Homo sapiens: one gene and its partners. The protein of the gene in region 3 purifies or fractionates together with the protein of the main gene of each other region. This does not show direct contact. Each region holds a gene or a part of one and is shown on either strand. Other genes may lie near its edges.

Evidence for each region. The genes of interacting proteins can lie anywhere in the genome.
Region 1: the proteins of PDGFRL (region 3) and ANKRD28 purify together in Homo sapiens (co-immunoprecipitation; 2 studies listed by BioGRID and IntAct, with this or other methods). This does not show direct contact.
Region 2: the proteins of PDGFRL (region 3) and ZMYM2 purify together in Homo sapiens (co-immunoprecipitation; 2 studies listed by BioGRID and IntAct, with this or other methods). This does not show direct contact.

What each region holds. Positions count from the first base shown.
Region 1 is NC_000003.12:15,787,980-15,794,979, forward strand, and holds part of ANKRD28 (serine/threonine-protein phosphatase 6 regulatory ankyrin repeat subunit A), read right to left. Parts: intron 1-7,000. UniProt on the Homo sapiens protein: Regulatory subunit of protein phosphatase 6 (PP6) that may be involved in the recognition of phosphoprotein substrates. Involved in the PP6-mediated dephosphorylation of NFKBIE opposing its degradation in response to TNF-alpha.
Region 2 is NC_000013.11:19,989,727-19,996,726, reverse strand, and holds part of ZMYM2 (zinc finger MYM-type protein 2), read right to left. Parts: intron 3,665-7,000; coding exon of another isoform or gene 3,655-3,664; coding exon 2,808-3,654; intron 1-2,807. UniProt on the Homo sapiens protein: Involved in the negative regulation of transcription.
Region 3 is NC_000008.11:17,572,545-17,580,301, reverse strand, and holds the start of PDGFRL (platelet-derived growth factor receptor-like protein precursor), read right to left. Parts: upstream 3,087-7,757; 5' UTR 3,050-3,086; coding exon 2,995-3,049; intron 1-2,994.

The sequences.
Region 1 (7,000 bases), on a different chromosome or scaffold from region 3:
TATTAAGTTATATGCTACATCTAAGATCTACCGCTTAGCTCTTAAATCAGCTCTTTAGAGTTTAAAAAGGGTTGCTCATAATCTCAGCCTTCCTATGTTTAAACACTAAAAACAGTTTGGCTGGATCCTTGTGTAATACTACTTTGACATTTTTATCTACCAAAAAAATATGGCACTAAAGAAGGCTTGTGTCTTATTTGTCTCATCACTTGTTTGCAATGATAAAATGTAACAGCACTTGGTATTATAAAAATTAGGATTATCTTTGTATCACAGCTTAAAAGGCAGGAGTTCATAGGGCACAGACATAACTATTTTAGAGAGAAACATCCATTTTCCAACTATTATTGCTTTATAGTACTATTTGGCAGAAGAAAAAATATTTCTCTCTCAACAATATGCTTTATTTCTCCAGTTACTATTAAGTCGGACATGGGTTCAAATTCCCATTCTGCTATACTGATTCTGCAGACGGTTAATTTTTGTGAATTTTAGTAGAAATGTTAACCTGTCAATTTTATAAAACTGTTGTACAAGTTAAATTGAGTAATACAAAATGGCTTATGCCTATGTCTGTCTCAAAAGTAAAGTTCTACAATTAACACCAATTTTAATACTCTTAATAAAAAATTAATATTTGTAGAAAATAATTTTCTTATAAAGAAGAATCAAAGTTTTCCTCTAAAATGTGGTATCATTAATATTTCAGATTAACCTATTTGGGTTCTACAACATGGCATTAAGTTCTAGTAAATCTTAGGGAAAGGCATTTATTATTTTGGTCACGAAAATCTAGAAACACAAATGAAAGCTTTTGGGCAAAAGCAGGAGGTCACTGAAAGTCATTTAGAATTTTTAGAGTGTCCTGAATTTGGAGTGGGGAAAGACTGTGAAGATCATTAATGTAACCCTACACATTTACCCCCCCAAAAAAAAAGAAGAGTGAGGGCTGAAGTTAACAGGATTCACTCAACTTGTATAGCCAATAAGGCTAAGAAGATATGAAAATCTAGGTCTTTCAACTTAGAGTCCAACTGTTCTTCACATTCTATGTACCACTCTGCTTTTAAAACATTTTGATTGCATTTCACCCTTTTATGGTTTACAGTGCTTCTTCCACATCCAGGTGACTTATTTTTCCAAAATTTTGCTATTTCAACAGTTTTTAGGCAACTAATAACCGTCCAGTTAGGTTCCTATCCAAACAACTATTTTCCCTTTCTTCCTTCCTATGAAAATCCTGATTTACTCCTGAATATGGCAATATATTCAATAAAGTCCACTGAAGCCCTATTCCTGCTCCAGGGGATGAACCAGGTGATGAACCAAGACTGATCTAGCAAAAAGCGAACCCCATTCTGCTTTGCTGGTGAATTAGTTTAGAGTAGTCTTGTAACCAATGGAACCTTAGGAAGGAATTTTGTGGGGACTTTCGAAGAGAGGTTTTCTCCTTTTTTTAAAAAAAAAAGAAAAGAAAAGAAAAGAAAATGTACAGGAGAGTCTCTTTTCCAATGTCTTTGGTTGTCTCCCATAAGTACATGATACAGCAGTCATCTCTTTATTATGAGAAAGCCAAGAGTTTCACAGAGAAGCTCACCCAGAGCTCTGACATTGCTGTTTTAAACAACCCCAAATTACCATGCTCTAGATTAAATTATTACACAAGCAAAAAACCTCTATTTATTCAGGTAGTCAATTATTATATCTGTGGCCAAAATCTGCCAAATATAAAACTCTAGTATTTGCTAGTGAAACTATGTTACATGACTTCTAGAAGACTTCATGTCATACCAAATAATATGAATATATAATTTTTTAAAATTAAAGTTTGTTAAAAATCTATTAGGGAAACAAAAAGTTGACTTAAAAAAATACAATTGACAAATCTTTAGCCAGACTAAGAAAAAAAGAGAAGAAGATCCAAATAAAATCAGAAATGAAAAAGGAGACATTACAACTTACACAGAAATTACGACTTACACAGACATTATGACTTATGCAGAAATCCAAAGGCTTGTTAGTGGTTACTGTAAGCAACTATATATGCTGATAAACTGGAAAATATAGAAGAAATGGACACATTCCTAGACATATACAACCTACCAAGATTGAAACAAGAGGAAATCCAAAACCAGAACAGACCAGTAACAAGTAATGAGATCAAAGCTGTAATAAAAAGTCTTCTAGTAATGAAAAGGCCAGGACATAATGGCTTCACTGCTGAATTCTACCAAACATTTAAAGAAGAACTAATACCAATCCTACTCAAAATATTCTAAAAAATAGAGGAGGGAATACTTCCAAATTCATTCAAGGCCAGTATTACCCTGATACCAAAACCAGACAAAGACACATCAAAAAAAGAAAACTACAGGCCAGTATCGCTGATGAGTATTAATGCAGAAATCCTCAACAAAATACTAGCACAACTGAATTCAACAATATATTAGAAAGATCATTCATCATGATCAAGTGGGATTTATCTGTGGGATGCAAGGATGGTTCAAAACACAAAATCAATTAACATGATATATCATATCAAAAAAATAAAGAATAACCATATGATCATTTCAACTGATGTTGAAAAAACATTTGATTAAAAAATTCAATATCCCTTCATGATAAAAACCCTCAAAAAACTGGATATGGAAGGAACATATCTCAACATAATAAAAGCCATATATGACAGACCCACAGCTAGTATCATGCTGAATGAGGAAAAACTGAAAATCTTTCCTCTAAGACCTGCAACACAAGGATGCCCACTGTCACCACTGTTATTTAACATAGTACTGGAAGTCCTATCTAGCTCAATCAGACAAGAGAAAGATATCAAAGGCATACAAATTGGGAAGGAAGAAGTCAAATTATACCTGTTTGTTGGTGATATAATCTTATATTTGGAAAAACCTAAACATTCCACAAGAAAACTAGAACTGATAAATTCAGTAAAGTTCCAGAATACAAAATCAATGTACAAACATCACTAGCATTTCTATATGCCAACAGTGAACAATGTGAAAAAGAAACTAAAAAGTAATCCTGTTTACAATAGCCATACATAAAATTAAATACTTAGGAATTAACCAAAGAAGTAAAAGATCTCTATAATGGAAACAATAAAACACGAATGAAGAAAATTGAAGAGGACACCAAAAAATGGAAAAATATTCCATGTTCATGGATTGGGATGAATCAACACTGTTAAAATGTCCTGGCAATCTATAGATTCAATGCAATCCCAATCAAAATACCAATGGAATTCTTCACAGGAATAGAAAAAATACTAAAATTTATATGGAACCAGAAAAGACCCAGAATAGCCAAAGCCACCCTAAGCAAAAAGAACAAAACTGGTGGAATCCCATTATCTAACTTCAAATTATGCTACAGACCTATCGTAACCAAAACAGCATGGTACTGTCACAAAAACAGACACGTGTACCAATAGAACAGAACAGAGAACCCAAAACCAAATCCAAACACCTACAGCAAACTCATTTTTGACAAAGGTGCCAAGAACATACACTGGGAAAAGACAAGTCTCTTTAATAAATGGTGCTGGGAAACTGGATAAACACATGCAAAATCATGAAACCAGACCCCTATCTCTTGCCATATACAAAATTCAAATCAAAATGCATTAAATACTTCAAACTGAATCTAATACAAGAAAACACTGGGGAAAATCTCCAGGACATTAGTCTGAGCAAATATTTCTTGAGCAATAGCCCACAAGCACAGGCAACCAAAGCAAACATGGACAAATGGGATCACATCAAGTTAAAAAGCTTCTGCACAGCAAAGGAAGTAATCAACAAAGTGAAGAGACAACCCACAGAACGAGAGAAAACATTTGCAAACTACCCCTCTGACAGGGGACTAATAACCAGAATATAAGGAGCTCAAACAACTCTACAGGAAAAAACCTAATAATCTGATAAAAAATGGGCAAAAGATCTGAATAGACATTCCTCAAAAGAAGACACACAAATGGTGAAAAGGTTCTCAACATCACTAATCATCAGATATCCAAAACTCAATGAGATATCATCTTGTCCCAGTTAAAATGCCTTTTATCCAAAAGTCAGGCAGTAACAAATGCTGGTGAGGATGTAAAGAAAAGGGAACCCTTGTTCACCATTGGTGGGAATGTACAACCACTACGGAGAACAGTTTGGAGGTCCCCCAAAAAACTAAAAATAGAGCTACCATATGATCGAGCAATTCCACTGCTGGGTATATATCCAAAATAAAGGAAATCAGTGTATCGAAGAGATCTGCACTCCTATGTTTGTTGCAGCACTGTTTACAATAGCTAACATTTGGAGGCAACCTAAGTGTCCATCAACAGATGAATGGATAATGAAAATGTGGTACATACACACAATGGAGTACTCGTCAGCCATAAAAAAACAGACCCAGTCATTTGCAACAACAGGGATAGAATTGGAGATCATTATGTTAACCGAAATAAGGCAGGCACAGAAAAACAAACATCACATGTTCTCACTTACTTGTGGGATCTGAACATCAAATCAACTGAATTCATGGACATAACAGAAGGATGGTTACCAGAGGCTGGGAAGGGTAATGGGGGGTTGAGTGGGAGGTGGGGATGGTTAATGGGTACAAAAAAATAGAATAAGACCTACTATTTGATAGCACAATAGGGTGACTATAGTCAATAATAACTTAATTGTATATTTTAAAATAACTTAAATAATGTAATTGGAATGTTTGTAACTCAAAGGATAAATGCTTGAGGGGATGAATACCTAATTCTTCATGATATGATTATTTCACATTACATGCCTGTACCAAAACATCCCATGTACCCCATAAATATAGACACCTATTATGTACCCACAAATTTTTTTTAAAACCCACTAAAATAAGAAGAAAAATCTATTAGGTGTGTTACTAAGAAACGTGCTGTTTAGTGGTCTACAATATTCAAAACCTCAGGGTGTGACTAAAGAAACTCATCTAAAATTATACAATGACTATTTAATGGTAGAGAAATAAATCTGAACTTATATCCATTCTAAAAATGAATAAAAACAACTTCAAAAAACTTAAGAGAAACCTGAGTTTCAAAAAGTCCAACGTTATTCTCCAAATACTTATTTAAATAAATTTACTTTGGAAAAACACGACTGTCACACTGACATAAAGCTTAAAAATATTTTATTACCTATTAAAAGTCAGTGCATTTAACACCCATTGCCTTTTAAAACCCCATATGATTCCTTATCAGACAAAATCAGATGATATTTACCATCTTAAATTCAAATAATGGCCAAAAAGTTAACAAATCTTGACTTTAAGGCAACACTCTCAACTACTAAGAAAGGGTCACGAGAGAAAAGGCCTAAAAGCAATCATAAAAGTTGTTGTCAAAAACCTTTGTATCACTGAAGACAATTGTCAAAGAGTTACTCTCAAGAAAGGCCTACTGATGAGTGAGCTGATGCTCTCAATGACTCTGAATTTTTTTTTAATTTAGGATAAATTGATTAAATATAACATAAAAGTAATGTCAGCTACAATAAACTTTGTAATGATGGAGAAATTAGCCCTGGTAAATGGAATTATAGTTCAAACTTTCTAATCAAGGTAGTATTTGTCAGTACTATTAAAATAAAACCAAAATAACAAGAAAACCTTAGGAGTTAAATGGAAAACATGTTTTCCACCTTTTCATGCGTCTATACCCCTTGAGCTATTTTCTAAGAAACGCATACTCTTCAGTATACCCTGGGTAAAGTAGCCAGACACTTCATTTAAAACAAATAAATCATGGCCCGGCACAGTGCCTCACGCCTGTAATCCCAGCACTTTGGGAGGCCAAGGCGGGCCGATCACCTGAGATCAGGAGTTTGAGACCAGCCTGGCCAACATGGTGAATGAAACCCTGTCTCTACTAAAAACACAAAAATTAATCGGGCGTGGTGGCAGGTGCCTGTAATCCCAGCTACTTGGGAGGTTGAGGCAGGAGAATCGCTTGAACCCGGGAGGCAGAGGTTGCAGTGAGCGGAGATCATGCCACTACACTCCAGCCTGGGCAACAGAGCCAGACTCTGTCTCTAAATAAATACATACATACATACATACATAAATCCTGAATTAGGTGCATGTTTCCAACTAAATATAAACTTGAAGGCAATTCACTTAGAAAAAATTTTAAAAAATATATAATGATAGCATTCTGTTCATTACCCAATGTTAAAATTAACAACAGTTTTAGCCAATGATTCAAATCTATTCAGATAATTCATTATTTTAAAAATAAGGTAAAACTTTTTTGTATCTACCTAACATTAAGTGGTCACAGCAGTATTATATTAAAAAAAAAAGGAGGAAAGATGAGAGTTAAAAATGAGCTTGCAATGGGTGCTTTCTTAAAACCACAATCATTTCTAGGTCATCTGTTTTGGTGTTGCCACAGCGACTTTGTGAATCATATGACTTTTCACCCCCTCCATAACTCAGGGGTACATTTGTTTCTGGTAAAAATATATACATTAGTGGATGTAATTTTGTTAGAGTACGTAATGTACTTTCAGCCACAACTTAGTAAACTAAATACTGGCCACTGAAAAAACATAACAGAGAGAGAAAATTATCCATATATCCACCTTTCTAAAACTGTCCATCATGTCAGCACTGAATATACTACTGTATCGTTAAGTCTGAAAACTTTTCCAACAATGACTTTACTGAAAACCTAATCTGACAAAAATTAATCAAGCACCATTGTAAAACACTCACCATGATTATTTACAAAAAGCAAATCTGATCTTATATTTAGATATACACTTACAAGAATCCTCATTTGAAATGCACAGTTAAGTATTTAATGGTGAAGTATCATGATTTCTGCAACTTACTACATATATATGTAAAAGTTGTATATTAATAAATACAGAAAGCAAATGTGGCAAAATGTTATCAATGCCAAAAGTAAGTGAAAGGTATATGGGTAGTCAGCATGTTT
Region 2 (7,000 bases), on a different chromosome or scaffold from region 3:
TTTGTTTTTTGAGACAGAGTCTCAGTCTGTCGCCCAGGCTGGAGTGCAGTGGTGCAATCTCTGCTCACTGCAACCTCCGCCTCCCAGGTTCAACAAATTATCGTGCCTCAGCCTCCCGAGCAGCTGGCATGCACCACCATGCCCCACTAATTTTTGTATTTTAGTTGAGATGGGGTTTCACCATGTTGGCCAGGCTGGTCTCAAACTCCTGACCTCAGATGATCCGTCCACCTTGACCTCCCAAAATGCTGAGATTACAGGCTTGAGCCACCGCAACCAGCCCTGGCTAGTTTTTTTTTTATCTTTAGTAGAGACAAGGTCTTGCTCTGTTGCCCAGAGGCTGGTCTGAAACTCCTGAGCTCAAGTGATCCTCCTGCCTTGGTCTCCCAAAGTGCTGGGATGACAGGCATGAGCCACCATGCTTGGCACCAGCTCTTGTTTTAAATTATAGATTTTCTAAGCAGTCTTCAATAATCAGACATTACTCGACAAATAAGAAAAATAACTAGCAATTCATATAGCATTCTACATTGCCTAGATTTTAGTTACTTCACATTATTCTCCACAATCCCTAGGATAATGAGCCTAAAATGATGACAGAATGGGTCAGAGAGAGGCATGTGAGAGAGAAACGCCGATAGACACACACACACAGAGGAATTGGGGGAGAGGTTAAAGAGAGAGAGAGACATCCACAGACATGTCATGAAAAAGTCACAGAGTTTGTTTTGTTTTTGAGACAGGGTCTCACTTTGTCACCCAGGCTGGAATACAGTGGTGCAATCCTGGCTCACTGCAACCTCTGCCTATGGGGCTCAAGGAATCCTCCCACCTCAGCCCCCCAAGTAGCTGGGACCACAGGTGTGCACCACTATGCCTAGCTAACTTTTCATATTTTCAGTATTTTGTATTTTTTCACCACGTTGTCCAGGCTGGCACAGAGTTCTTATCACTTCCATATTTTAAAGTTTTCACAGAACAAGGCTGCTCACAGAAAACAATTTCAAATAGTCAAGAAAACTATCAACCTTCAAAAAAAAAGGTGGGGGGCTGGGTACAGTGGCTCACACCTGTAATCCCAGAACTTTGAGAGGCCAAGGCAGATGGATCACTTGAGGCCACGAGTTCAAGACCAATCTGGCCAACATGGTGAAACCCCGTCTCTACTAAAAATACAAAAATTAGCTGGGTATGGTGGCACACATTTATAATTCCAGCTACTAGGGAGGCAGAGGCTGCAGTCAGCCGAGATTGCACCACTGCACTCCAGCCTGGGCGATACAGCAAGACTCTGTCAATAAACAAATAAATAAGAAAAAAAAGTATTGCTTATTTATGCCCTTGAAAAATAAAAATAATTTTTAAAAATTTTTTAGTAGTAAAATGCTAACTAAAAGCTAAAGATACGTGGTCAAAAATAAACACGGCATTATCGAGTTGTAGACATTAAATATATACAGCCTTTTGCATGTCAATCATAACTTTAAAGTAGTTTTAGAAAAGAAAAAAAGGATGATATGTTTGGCTTTCTTCAAATGTGAGAAAAATAAAACCTTAGCCAACTCTTAATAAAAAATAAAATGGCTGGGCATGGTGGCTCATACCTAGAATCCCAGTACTTTAGGAGGCCAAGGCAGAAGGAATGTTTGAGCCCAGGAGTATAAGACCAGCCTGGGCAACACAGTAAGACTCCGTCTCTACAAATAATTTTTTTTTTTTTTTTTAATTTAGCCAGGCATGGTGGCTCACACCTGTGGTCCCAGCTACTCTGGAGGCTGCGATGGAAGGATCACCTGAGCTCAAGAAGTCGAGGTTGCAGTGAGCTGAGATTGTGCCACTCTACTCCACTCTGGGCGACAGAGAGAGACCCTGTCCCAAAAAATTAACTAATTAATTAAATTAAATAAGCACAGGGAAAGTAGAAATAAATCTAAATGCGGCCAGGTGCAGTGACTCACGCCTGTAATCCCAGCATTTTGGGAGGCTGAGGTGGGCAGATCACCTGAGGTCAGGAGTTTGAGACCAGCCTGGCCTGGCCAACATGATAAAACCCCATACAAAATACAAAAATTAGCCATGCGTGGTGGTGGACGCCTATAATCCCAGCTGCTTGAAAGGCTGAGGGAGGAGAATCGCTTGAACACAGGAGGCGGAGATTGCAGTGAGCCAAGATTGCGCCACTGCACTCCAGCCTGGGTGACAGAGCAAGACTCCATCTCAAAAAAAAATCTAAATGCAACTACTGTACAATATTACACTGTTCTTTAAGTGTGCTATTATATTAATCTTTTGGTTCTCTAATTTATATACTAAAACACTAGTAAAAATTCTATTAGCAAAAAGTAATGCATGACAAACAAGATATTAAATTATCACACTTCATTCTTTTGTTTGTTTTGCTTTTTAAATTTAGAGATGGCGTCTCGCTATGTGGCCTAGACTGGTCTCGAACTCCTGGGCTCAAGCAATCCACCCACCTTGGCCTCCCAAAGTGCTGGGATTACAGGTGTGAGCCGCCGTGCCCGGCCAAATTATCAGACTTTGGTGATGAATGTAAAGAGTATTTTTTTCTTAAATCCTTTAAATATAAAACTACTTTATGATTAACTTTTTAGTAATCCACAGAAAAATACTATACATGGTTTTACAATTCTTATTAAAATACCAAACTTAAGATAAAATTCAATATAATTCACATATTTCACATGATGAAACTAAACAAGGTAATACCAGTTACTACAATGAAAAAAGCAGCAGCCAAAAGTTTAAATTCATTTACATGAAGTAGAGTATCTCTTACTGCTTACCAGGATTATGATGAGTTGCAGATTCTCCATTCTGAAAAACGTCTCCTGCCACATTCATTCTACCAGGATTAAAAGGTCCTACTCCAGTCTTGGTCTGTGAAGTTAAAGATGGGGTGTATGTTTGTATATTAACACCAAAATTACTTGACTGCAGTCCGTTAGAGACATCTCCCAAGTTGGTATTCTGCAGTGATGTTACATGTGTAATCATTAAGTTCATATCTCGCCCGTCAGTATTTTCTAATTGGCCATCATTCACAGAGCTTACACCTGTTTCTAAAGTTGTAACATTAGCAATCTGAATTTCAGAGTCTGGTTCTGTGGTGATACCACTATTACCCATTCCTGCATTTACCTTACTTCTTGAAAAACTGGAAGTGGAGAAATCCACATCATTGGTTCTGTTTTTAGTCTCAGGAGGTCTTCGTTCAATAAAATTGGAGGAATTTTTCTCTTGCCCTTGATTTGTTTCCATGTCCTCTTCATCATCAATGACAATTGTCTCACTTACACTTCCCTTCTGAGATGCCAACTCTTTTGAGGAAGGAGTAATTTTGGAATCATTTCCTTGTAGTTCTTCATTTTTTGATGATGTAAATGTTATGGTTCTTTGATCAGCTACCACTGGTACAGAAGGTGGGGGAGGTTGTACAGGTTCGATAAAAACAACATCATCATCATCTTCCACTGACGAGTTCTGAAACTTATTAGATCTAGACACTAAAGGATTAGCTGGACCACTAAATGAGTTTCCTACATTCGTGAGACTAGTTGCCATGGCCGTACTCCCTAATAAAACAGGAGTCTGATCAGTCAATTCTAATCCTCCCACTGAACTTGTGTCCATGCCAAAGAACCTGTTAGGAAGATAGAAAAAAGAATTAAAATGTCAGTATGACTTTTTATGTTACTCTAACTGAAACCATTGATTTAAAGGGTACTTTTATTTTATTTTTATTCTAAATGAAGTGATTCTTGTCTAACATTCAGGAAAATATGTGATATCCATTCATTAATCATTTCATATAGTTTACATGTTAACTTTTGCAGGATAACAAGGAAGGCAATTATCCAATTTTTATTGGATAATTAATCATATGCAATATATTCATGGTAATCATATGCAATATATTCCTACCACCACCACCACCTCCTTTCAGGGGTACACTATTTACTCCATAAAATTTATCACTAAAAATATGGATAAATCCTCCCACACATCTGAACAGGAAAAAAAAAAAATCAAAATCTGACAAAAAATAATTACTTCATTATACACTTATCCCATTTATTCACTGTATCATATAAAGTCACATGCTATAATCCTTTCCCTTACCTCATCTTTTTTGGGGGGTGGGGAAGGACAGGGTCTCGTTCTGTCACCCAGGCTGGAGTGCAGCGTTGTGACCATGGCTCACTACAGCCTTGACCTCCCAGGTTAAGGCGATCCTCCCACCTCCAAGTAGCTGGGACTACAGGCCATCGCCACCACACCTGGCTAATTTATTTATTTATTTATTTAGGTAGAGACGAGGTCTCACTATGTTGCCCTGGCTGGTCTCAAAATTCCTAGGCTCAAGAGATCCCCTGAACTCGGCCTCAGCCTCCCAAAGTGCTGGGATTACAGGCATGGGCCATTGTGCCTGGCCATCTCATCTTTTTTTAACCCACTTTTCTCATATTCTCTGGCTCCCATTAATTGTACAATTAAATCTTTCTGAAAATTTTAATCTTTTTTGACCCTATCCAGAAAGCATAAATTGTTTTTTTTGCCAGGCACTATGCTGTGTGCTTTATATCCCAGTAGCAGGCTGAATAAAGGTCACCAAAGATATCAGGTCCCCATTCCTGGAACCTACAAATGTTAACCTTACATGGAAAAAGGGACTTTGCAGATATGATTAATGTTAAGGATTTTCAAGTGAGATTATATGGGATTACCTGAGTGGGTCACAAATGTACTCACAAGTACCCTTATAAAAGACATGCAGAGGGAGACTACAAGTAAAAGAGAAGGCAGTGTGACCATTGGGAGGCTGAGGTGGGCAGATCACTTGAGCCCAGGAGTTTGAGACCAGCCTGGGCAACATGACAAAACCCCATCTCTACAAAAAATACAAAAATTAGCCGGGCATGTTAGCACATGCCTGTAGTCCCAACTACTCAGGAGACTGAAGAGGAGAATCATCTGAGGCCGGGAGTTTGAGGCTGATGTCAGCCATGATTGTGCCCTTGCACTCCAGCCTGAGCTACAGAGTGAGAACCTGTCTCAAAATGGGAAAAAAAAAAAAAAAAGAAAAAGAAAAGAAAAGAAATTCTGGCTTACAGATGCTAACTCTCTTGCCCAAGTCACACAGCTAGGTTGAATACCCAGGTCTCTAAAACTCAAGAGTTCAAAACTCATCATTCTGCTATATTCAACTAATATTTTCTAAGCACCTCCTATATGCCAGGTTGTGCTGAAGTCAAAGAAAATAGCAGAGTTAAGAAGATAACCTCAGGCCAGACACAATGGCTCATACCTGTAATCCTAGCATTTTGGGAGGCTGAGGTGGGAGGACTGCTTGAGCCCAGGAGTTCGAGACCAGCCTGAGCAACATAACAAGACCTCAAATCTACTAAATACTAAAATTTAAAAGTCAGCCAGTCATGGTGGCGCACATCTGTAGTCCTGGCTACTTAGGAGGCTGAGGCAGGAAGATCACTTGAGCCCAGGAGTTCGAGGTTGCAGTGAGCTACGATTGTGCCACTATATTCCAGCCTGGGCAACAGAGCAAACCCTGTCTCAAAAGAAAACACATACGTACACACACACACACACACACACACACACACACACAGAAAATACATACGTACACACACACACACACAGAGAGAAAATTTCTAGGACAAAGTTACTGAGCAAATGGAGATGAGACAGATCATGGGCTCAGGTGGTAATATCACTAACTCTGAACAAGAACCATTTTGATCTCACAGATCAAACTTGGGGGGCAAAATGCAAGGGGAACCAACTAGAAGAGGTAAAACTGAAGGGCAAGTATAGACTATAGATTAAATTGTAGATAGGATGAATGGGAAGTTGAAGTGGCTTATATACAGTGGTTTGGCCTAATTTTCATAGTGTATTATCTGAAAAGATGAGGAGATACTGGCTATATAGTTCTTAAAGACTGGTTTAAAAACACTTCATTTAAAGAGCCTCTGAAAGGATAAAAAAGAGACTAATATGTATTGCTTTGATTTACAGATGACAGTGGTAGAGGCATTTTTCACTGTACGTCTTGTAGCATTTTCTTAATTTTGGGCCACGTGATTTATCACTTTTTTTTAAACTAAATTTAAAAACTTTTAAACAGAATAACAGAAGGTGAAGAGATAACTAGTTTGGTGATCAGAGAACATCTCTTTAAGCAAGTGACATTTACACTGAAATACGAAATGATAAGATTCAGCTGTGAGAAAACTGGGGACAGGATATTCCAGGCAAAGAAAACAGCTTCTGCAAAGCCTAGAGGGAATGAAGTTGGCCAATCCAAGCAGCAGAATAAAGCCAATGTGGCAGATCAAAGTAAGAAGCAAAGAGGAGGATAAAATGAGATAAACAGGCAGAGAATAACACATCAAGGCCAACTAGCTAATTCATTAATTACATTTAACAGATTTACAGAGCACCTAGTATGCACAAGATACTTTCTAGGCACATGGCAAAAATCAGTAATCAAAACAGGTAAACAGCCCTGCCTAAGCTTAGAAAGCATTAATTCTAACTAAAGGTGAAAGTTTGGATTTTACTGGAACAGGAAACACTGCCATGTTTCCAGCAAAGAGGTGATACAATCTCAGGTTTTAAATAGATCACTGTGGCTGCTATGTGGGAACAAGAGGGAAAAACTGGAAGCAAAGAAACAAACTAGATGGCCATTGAAATGGTCCAAGTGAGAGATGACAGTGGCTGAAAAAGGGTGGTGATGGGAGATGAGAAAAAGTGAACAGATTAGGGTATTTTAAAAGCAAGATCTCTTACTGACATGAAAAAAAATCTACAAGGTATACTGATGACTTTTAAAAGTTACAGAACACTCATGGAGATAGAGTAGAAGGATGCTTAGCAAAGGCTGAGAAGGGTAGTGGCGAGGTGGGGGTTAATGGGCACAGAAAAACAGAATAAGACCTATTATTTGATAGCACAA
Region 3 (7,757 bases):
AGTGTCAAAGGCTCTTGGTTAGAGAATCCTCGTCATTGTGTCTCTGTCCTTACCTTCTTAGAGATCTGGCTATATTGCTCTCAGACAATAATGAATGTCTGTAGTCCTCCAAGAAAGAAACCCCTTTCACCAGATGCAAAATAAACCCAGGTTACTGAAGACCAGATTAGCATGGATCAAGGATCTCATGTTATTCAACAGAACTCGTTGCACAAATCAATATTAACACTTCAGTGTTTGCTCCTGACATTCAATAAAAATATGTAGGTAATCAAAAGTCAGGAAATATTTGTGATTTTATACTTTTCAATGTGAAAATAGAAGCACCCTATTAATAAACTCGGTGGCATGTATTCCATATAAATGCTGAAAATCAGGTGCTATGATTGACATCTCAACGTGGAATCTTGGATTATTTATTACCTGTTTTCATCCCTCAGTTTCATGCCATGAAGTATTATGTGCCTTTCCAGCTCCCCATCTTCATGAGGAGAAAGAACATTACTTCCAAAAATTTAAAGCATTTTGTCATTGGGAGCAGCCAGCTTCATTGGGTCACAGGCCAGATGTTCACCCCCATACACACTTGCAGGGAAGTCTTTTCCTCTTAGAAGGCTGTCTTTGGCTAGTTGTGGTGGCTAGCACAAGTGGAAGTCGCAGTGAGCTAAGATTGTGCCACTGCACTCCACCTGGGTGACATAGCAAGACTCCATCTCAATAATAATAATAATAATAATAATAATAACAATAATAATAAAATAATAATAAAGACTGTCTTTTAGATGTGATCAGAAAAACTAAAAGGCAGTGAAACAAGTTGAGTCATGGACCTTGTGTCTGTAATTTGTGCTTTGGGATGGCCTTGAAGGCAGGATATTCCCAACCTGCCAATCTGAGACCAGCACTGGAAGGGCCTCCTGTGTAATCCACTCTCCTTAGTAGCTCCTGGCCACAACTCACAACACAACTCAAAACCAAAAACCATTCTTAATAGGTTTAGCCAAACGGTTACATAACTTAATGAAGCACTGTGTGTTCACTATTGTATCCATAAATAGTCCATACATTATAGATATGTGTGCTTTTATTTTTATCTTTATTTTCTTGAGATGGAGTCTCACTTTGTCGCCCAGCTGGAGTGCAGTGGTGCGATCTCGGCTCACTGCAACCTCTGCCTCCCAGGTTCAAGCAGTTCTCTGCCTCACCCTCCCAAGTAGCTGGGATTACACGTGCCCACCACCACGCCCGGCTAATTTTTATATTTTTAGTAGAGACGGGGTTTCACCATCTTGGCCAGGCTGGTCTTGAACTCCTGACCTTGTGATCCACCTGCCTTGGCCTCCCAAAGTGCTGGGATTACAGGCATGAGCCACTGTGCCCGGCCAGATGTGTGTACTTTTATAAACAAAATCTTCGTGCTATTATCACCTAAAATTTATGAACTATTTCTTACATTCAGTCTGTATTCCACTTTCTCCAATTGTCTCATAAATGCTTATTGTTTGTATGGATTACACTTAAAGAAAGGGTAAATTTAGTCAGATGTTTGTAATAAACTCACATGGGCTGGGTGAGATCCAGGAGGCAGAATGGAAGTCAATTTCTGAGCCTCTAAGACTGGCAAGTTGGGTATAAACAAAGGAATGGCTGATTTGAAATTATTTTGCCTGGCCATCTCCTGCCCTATTCAAAAAATGATACTACAAATTACATTTCTGCCTTTTCAGCGGTTGCACACAAGGGCCTGCCAGGAGCATTTTAATATTGCATTTTACAAACTGAACTCATGGCAACTTCTCTCTGGGCAGAGTTAAGTGTTACTCTCCCAGTAGAAGCTCTGCCTACGTTTTATTAAGCAAAGCTCTAGGCTGAAGGACCCTCATGCTCAACTTCAAGTACCACGACTATCTTGGATTTTGCAAACTACAATGCGGTATTTTTTTGGCAAATGTAGTTTCCTAGGAAAGAAAGGAACTGGTCAGGATGAACGAGTGGATAAAAATGTGAGCCAGGTCGAGCTGGCTCCAGCATGAAGTTGCATAACAGCAAAAGCTACTTTTCCACTAAATCTAAGCAAAAATTGTGTTGTAGCCCAGGAATTTCAAGAGAGGGTTGAGGACACCAGGAGGCACCCAGATGAAACATGTACTGTACAAATAACACCCATGGAGTGAATAGAGCAAACAAAACATTTAAATGCTAACAATAATATATAATACACACCACAGTAATACACACACCCAGACACACAGAAAAATAACACCAGACCCTGTGGTCACGGGTGTACACGACAGGGTGGACCCAGGACAGGTACACATTCAAAAACGCGCAGCGGTCATGGTCCCATAAGCTGTACCAAAAAAATGCATTTTCTTCACCATTTCCCATCCAATTAGATAAATATAATAAGCCGTGGGCTTTTGATTCGTTTTGAAGTTTCATACACTGACATTTTTGTTCGAAGATCTAGGCAGATCTTGCAGGATTCAAGCAAAAGGTGGTAGACGAAAACACGCCCAGAACTGCGAGGGGAGGGGGAGGTCACCTGGAACTCTGCAACCGAATCAGCGATTGCCGAGCTTAGGTGGCACTCGCTCTCAGCAGCAGAGGTCCCAGCCACGCCGCTGGGAGGTGGAAGCGATCCGAGGCTCCCGCCCCACCTCCCAGACCGACACGTTGACACTGGGGGCTGGACCAGGCGCTGGCTGGGGATGCTTGGTTCGCCCGGAGATGGGGACTTGGAGAGGTCCTGGTGGGCTCCTAAGGGTCGGGGTAGCTGCCACCACCCCTAGAGGGCTCTCCGGGCAGGCAAAGAGTGGGAGGAAAGGAGACCCCACCAGGAGGGGGCAGGTGCACCGGGCAGGCAGTGGCGCGGGGGCTGAGCCACCGAGGGCCGAACGTTAGACCAAGAGCTGGCAGGAGGGCGGCGGGGGCTTCGGGTCCCGGCTAAAGTCAGGGCACAAGCTAGGTGGCCCCGCGCCCAGAGTCACTCACCATCCTCCAGCGCTTCGTGCACCAGCAGAAGACCAAGCAGCAGCCAGACCTTCATCTCGGGAACCTCGGACCTCGGAGCGCAGGAGCGCGGCGGCTGCGCGGGGCGGGGACGCAGGGGAGGCGGCGGGCGAGGGGCGGGCTCCTGGGACGCCGAAGCGGGAGGATTCGGTTTCTTCAGGAGGAACAAGGTTTGGGGGAAAAAGTTGGGGAATTTTTTTTTTTTTTAGTTCTCTGTGTAATGTGACTTCTCCTGCCCCCTGGCGGAGCCGCGGTGCGCAGCACTTCTTCCCAGCGCGGGGAGGAAAGGCTAAGCGTGAAATGTACATTACAACAGCCATTCCTTGAATTTCTCCAACGCTTGGCGTTTTCACCAAGGTTATCAAGTTCAAGAAGGATCAGCGGGTGCTGATGGGGTCACTTTTAACCACGATTGTCCAAATGTTACCAGCGCCCGCCCCACCTCCTCAGGCAGAACCTGAGTGCTCTGTAAAAAGTGCTTCCTAAATTATTTCTGTTCATTCCATTTCTCTCCCCCACATGCACTCACTCACAGGACCGTTGCCCCGGGTTCTTGCTGCTCCTCTGTGTCTGGCCAGAGTTGGTCTCCGCACCCAGCCCTGTAACTGCTGGTGGGGGTGGGAGGACGGGTTCATTACAGGAATAACGTGGAAAATGAGACTGTGCAGACAACCCGGGCCTCTGGTGGTGAGGCAGGAGAACAGGGAATTAGGGTAAGCACGGGCTAGGGTATGAGCAGGAGAACAGCAGGTGCAGCCAGTTCGCAGAAGCAAAAGATCAGCAGGTGCAGACAGTTCTAGGCATGATTAGGCGGCACACAGGCCACATCCTCGCTCCTCTGATAACAAGGCAGAAGTTTCCACTTCAGCCTCGGACTGGTCGCAGGCCAGTCCTTCGTAAGGTGTAACCAGTTGGAGGCCTCTAAAGGGAACCCAAGGGTGTTGCCAAGTTCTTTTCGCTTTATAAAATCCCTGGGGAGCGTCAGGCTCTTGTGGCTTGCTGCAGCGCCCTCTGTGAATTGTCTTCTATAAATCTACGTTTTCCTTCCTCCCTTCTGTTGCTTTGTTTTTCCTTGCTTCTTTCTTTCGTTACTCCGTGCATTTCGTTCAATTTTTTGTTCAACAGGCCAAGAACCTGGACAACTCTATCAGGTAACAGTGGGGCAGAAGATACGGGCTTTCACAAGTCCCTCTGCAGAGAGCCATCCTGCGTTTCTGAGCTTGCAGACTCTCATGATCAAAGCAGTTTGCTAGCGGGGGAGATGCCTGTGTGTGTTCCCCCGGTGAGAAGCAGCCCATCTCATTGTAATCTTCAGCACCAGGCACTGCTATTAAAGGGAGCTCAATTCTAAATAACAGGAAAGGGACTTGTCCCTCAACACCCAACGAAAGAAGTGCTGCCATTTATAACAAACTAATGCTTCTCAGTCACTTCTGCAGGAGGAACCAAGAATTCTATATTCTGTTGCCAGCTCTAGCCGGAGCTTTGCCACTCGCTTGCCTTGCGATGCAGAGAGCAGTTGGCTGGGAATAAAGACCAGAGTTCAGATGCTGACACTGGCACAAACTCTCCATGCCTCTCAGAATTCACTTAACCTTCTGGGTTTTAGCATCTCTTGTTTATTAAGAAAGGGAACTAGGTGATTATTTCAACAGGAGTTTGCTATGTGATTAACATTACGGCTATGAAGGTTGAGACATCATCTCTCATGGCTACTTTTAAGGAGTGAACAAGCATTTAGACCACTGCAATGTGGTGTGTCAGGTTCTGGGGAGAATTCTGAGCAAAGGACTTGGAGCATGCACACAGGAGAGAGTAAATCTGCCTAAATTGCCCCACCGTGAGATTTCTTTTCATTCTGACCCCATGAATTGACTGCTTAACTCTCACTCCATGTTGGAGCCTGGGGTTGGGTCTAGATTCCTCCTCTCGGTCGCAGTATCCCCTCCATGCTGACTATGCATGTGCCAGGTCCACCTCTCTTGTGCCATTATTGTCAAGCTTCACTGCCCTGGCTCAGCTACATTTAGCCGAGAGTCGTCCCTCTTTCTCTTGCCGCTTAGAGGCTCTTCTTGGGGGGCTGAGGCGAGAGAGTCATTTGAGCCTGGGAAGCGAGGTTGCAGTGAGCTGAGATGGCACCACTGCACTCCAGCCTGGGCGACAGAGAGAGACTGTCTCAAAATAAATAAATAATAAATAAATAAATAAAAGCAAAGAAGAGAGGCCTCAGAGAATACCCATTCTTCTGCCACCTTGCTCTCAGATTTCTGCCATTCAGAACTATAAGAGAATACATTTCTGTTCTTTAAACCACGCACTCTGTGGTTCTTTGCTATGGTAGCCCCAGCAAATTAATACAGGGGTCTGTATTAAGATGGGAACAGAATTCATAAGAAGTATAAGGGCTTCCCAAGACACGTAGCTATTTCATCACAAGGCTTATTATCCTTGAATGAGACAATCTCAAGATGATTTTAAATTTGAAAACAAAAACTGCCAAAGCTGTATTTTTCACAGGTCTTATTTCACTATAAAAATCCACGTGCTTTGTCTCTAGGGTGAGAAAGAATTTTATTATTAGAATGTCGTGTTGATCTTTTCCATTCCTTCTCCAACAATTACTATAATGTTAGCCAATTAAAATAAACATTATCTTGCAGCTCTAAATCAAATACAACTTGAAGCCTGCTTTCCCAAGGCCTGATTTTTTTTTTTTGTATGTTTAGCTTGTATCTGGTCACCTTAATGGACCTTCTTAGTAGCTTAAATAGTTTTCAGTTGATCTCTTGGGTTTTTAGATAAACGATCACATTACCTGTAACACCCACTTTTCTTTCTTCTCTTTTCTTTGAGATAAGTCTCACTCTGTTGCTTAGGCTGGAGTACACTGGCATGATCACAGCTCACTGCAACCTCCACCTCTCCGGCTCAAGCAATTCTCCTGCCTCAGCCTCCTGAGTAGCTGGGACTACAGGTGTGCGCCACCATGTCTGACTAATTTTTGTATTTTTAGTAGAGATGGGTTTTCGCTGTGTTGGCCAGGCTGGTCTCAAACTCCTGACCTCAAGTGATCCTCCTGCCTCAGCCTCCCCAAGTGCTGGGATTACAGGTGTCAGCCACCGTGCCTGGCCATTTTCATTATCTATTTTAATTAACGGTAGCTTTCTATGCTTACCCATGAAATCTCCCTACTCCATTGCCTTCCGTGCTTTTTATTTGCCCCTTTGAAGTGGTGAATACCATTAGGAATTTGTTAGGTAAGAAAAAATCAGCCAATATTTTGGGCATCCCTTCTCCATCCCCAAGATAAGGACACGTAACTTCTCTAACTAGTCTTCGTTAACTACAGACATACAACCAAGATGATTTTTTCACAAAAATCTATCAGGGGAATCCGCCCCCAATATTTCAACGTAGGTTCTTTTTATTTTCCTTAAGTGTCGGCCGGCTGAGAAATAAAGAGAAAGAGTACAAAGAGAGGAATTTTACAGCTGGGCCGCCAGGAGTGACATCATACATTGGTAGGACCGTGATGCCCACCTGAGCCTCAAACCAGCAAGTTTTTTATTAAGGGTTTCAAAAGGGGAGGGGGTGTAAAAACAGAGAGTAGGTACAAAGATGACACGCTTCAAAGGGCAAAAAGCAGAACAAAGATCACGTGCTTCTGAGGGAACAGGACAAAGGTCAAAAGCAGAACTACTGATAAGGGTCCAACAAAGATCACAAGGCAAAGGGCAAAAGCAGAACCACTGAAAAGGGTCTATGTTCAGCGGTGCATGTATTGTCTTGATAAACATCTTAAACAACAGAAAACGGTTCGAGAGCAGAGAACTGGTCTGACCGCAAATGTACCAGGGCGGACTTTTTTCCCCACCCTAGTAAGCCTGAGGGTACTGCAGGAGACCAGGGTGTATCTCAGTGCTTATCTCAACTGCACAAGACAGACATTCCCAGAGCGACCATTTATAGACCTCCCCCCAGGAACGCATTCCTTTCCCAGGGCATTAATATTAATATTTCTTGCTAGGAAAAGATTTTAGTGATATCTCTCCTACTTGCGTGTCCGTTTATAGGCTCTCTGCAAGATGAAAAGTATGGCTCTTTTTGCCCGACCCCACAGGCAGTCAGACCTTATGATTGTAACTTCCCTTGTTCCCTAAAAATCACTGTTATTCTGTTCTTTTTCAAGGTGCACTGATTTCATATTGTTCAAACGCACATTGTACAATCAATTTGTGCGGTTAACACAATTATCACAGTGGTCCTGAGGTGATGTACATCCTCAGCTTACGAAGATAACAGGATTAAGAGATTAAAGTAAAGACAGGCATAAGAAATTATAAAAGTATTATTTGGGAACTGATAAATGTCCATGAAATCTTCACAATGTATGTTTCTCTGCCATGGCTCCAGCTAGTCCCTCTGTTCGGGGTCCCTGACTTCCTGCAACAAAAATCAATGCTTCGAGGTTTTAGCAGGAATAAAATTTAGTGGTTTTAAATATGGGACTCCCTGAAGACTTCATTCTGATAGAAATGCCAGACATTTTTGACACTCCCAGAGCCACTCGTCAAGGGACATCTTAGGGTAAGGTAGGGATCCCAGAAACTTAGTCTACTTAAAACCAATGAAGCACAAGACCTTCCTAGCTCCAGGATGTAGCATGTTGTAAAGATGCATCACCTATTCATTAGTTGCAAGAGCCTCTAAGTGGCAAGGGAAAGAGGGACTACTCTAAGCCAAAA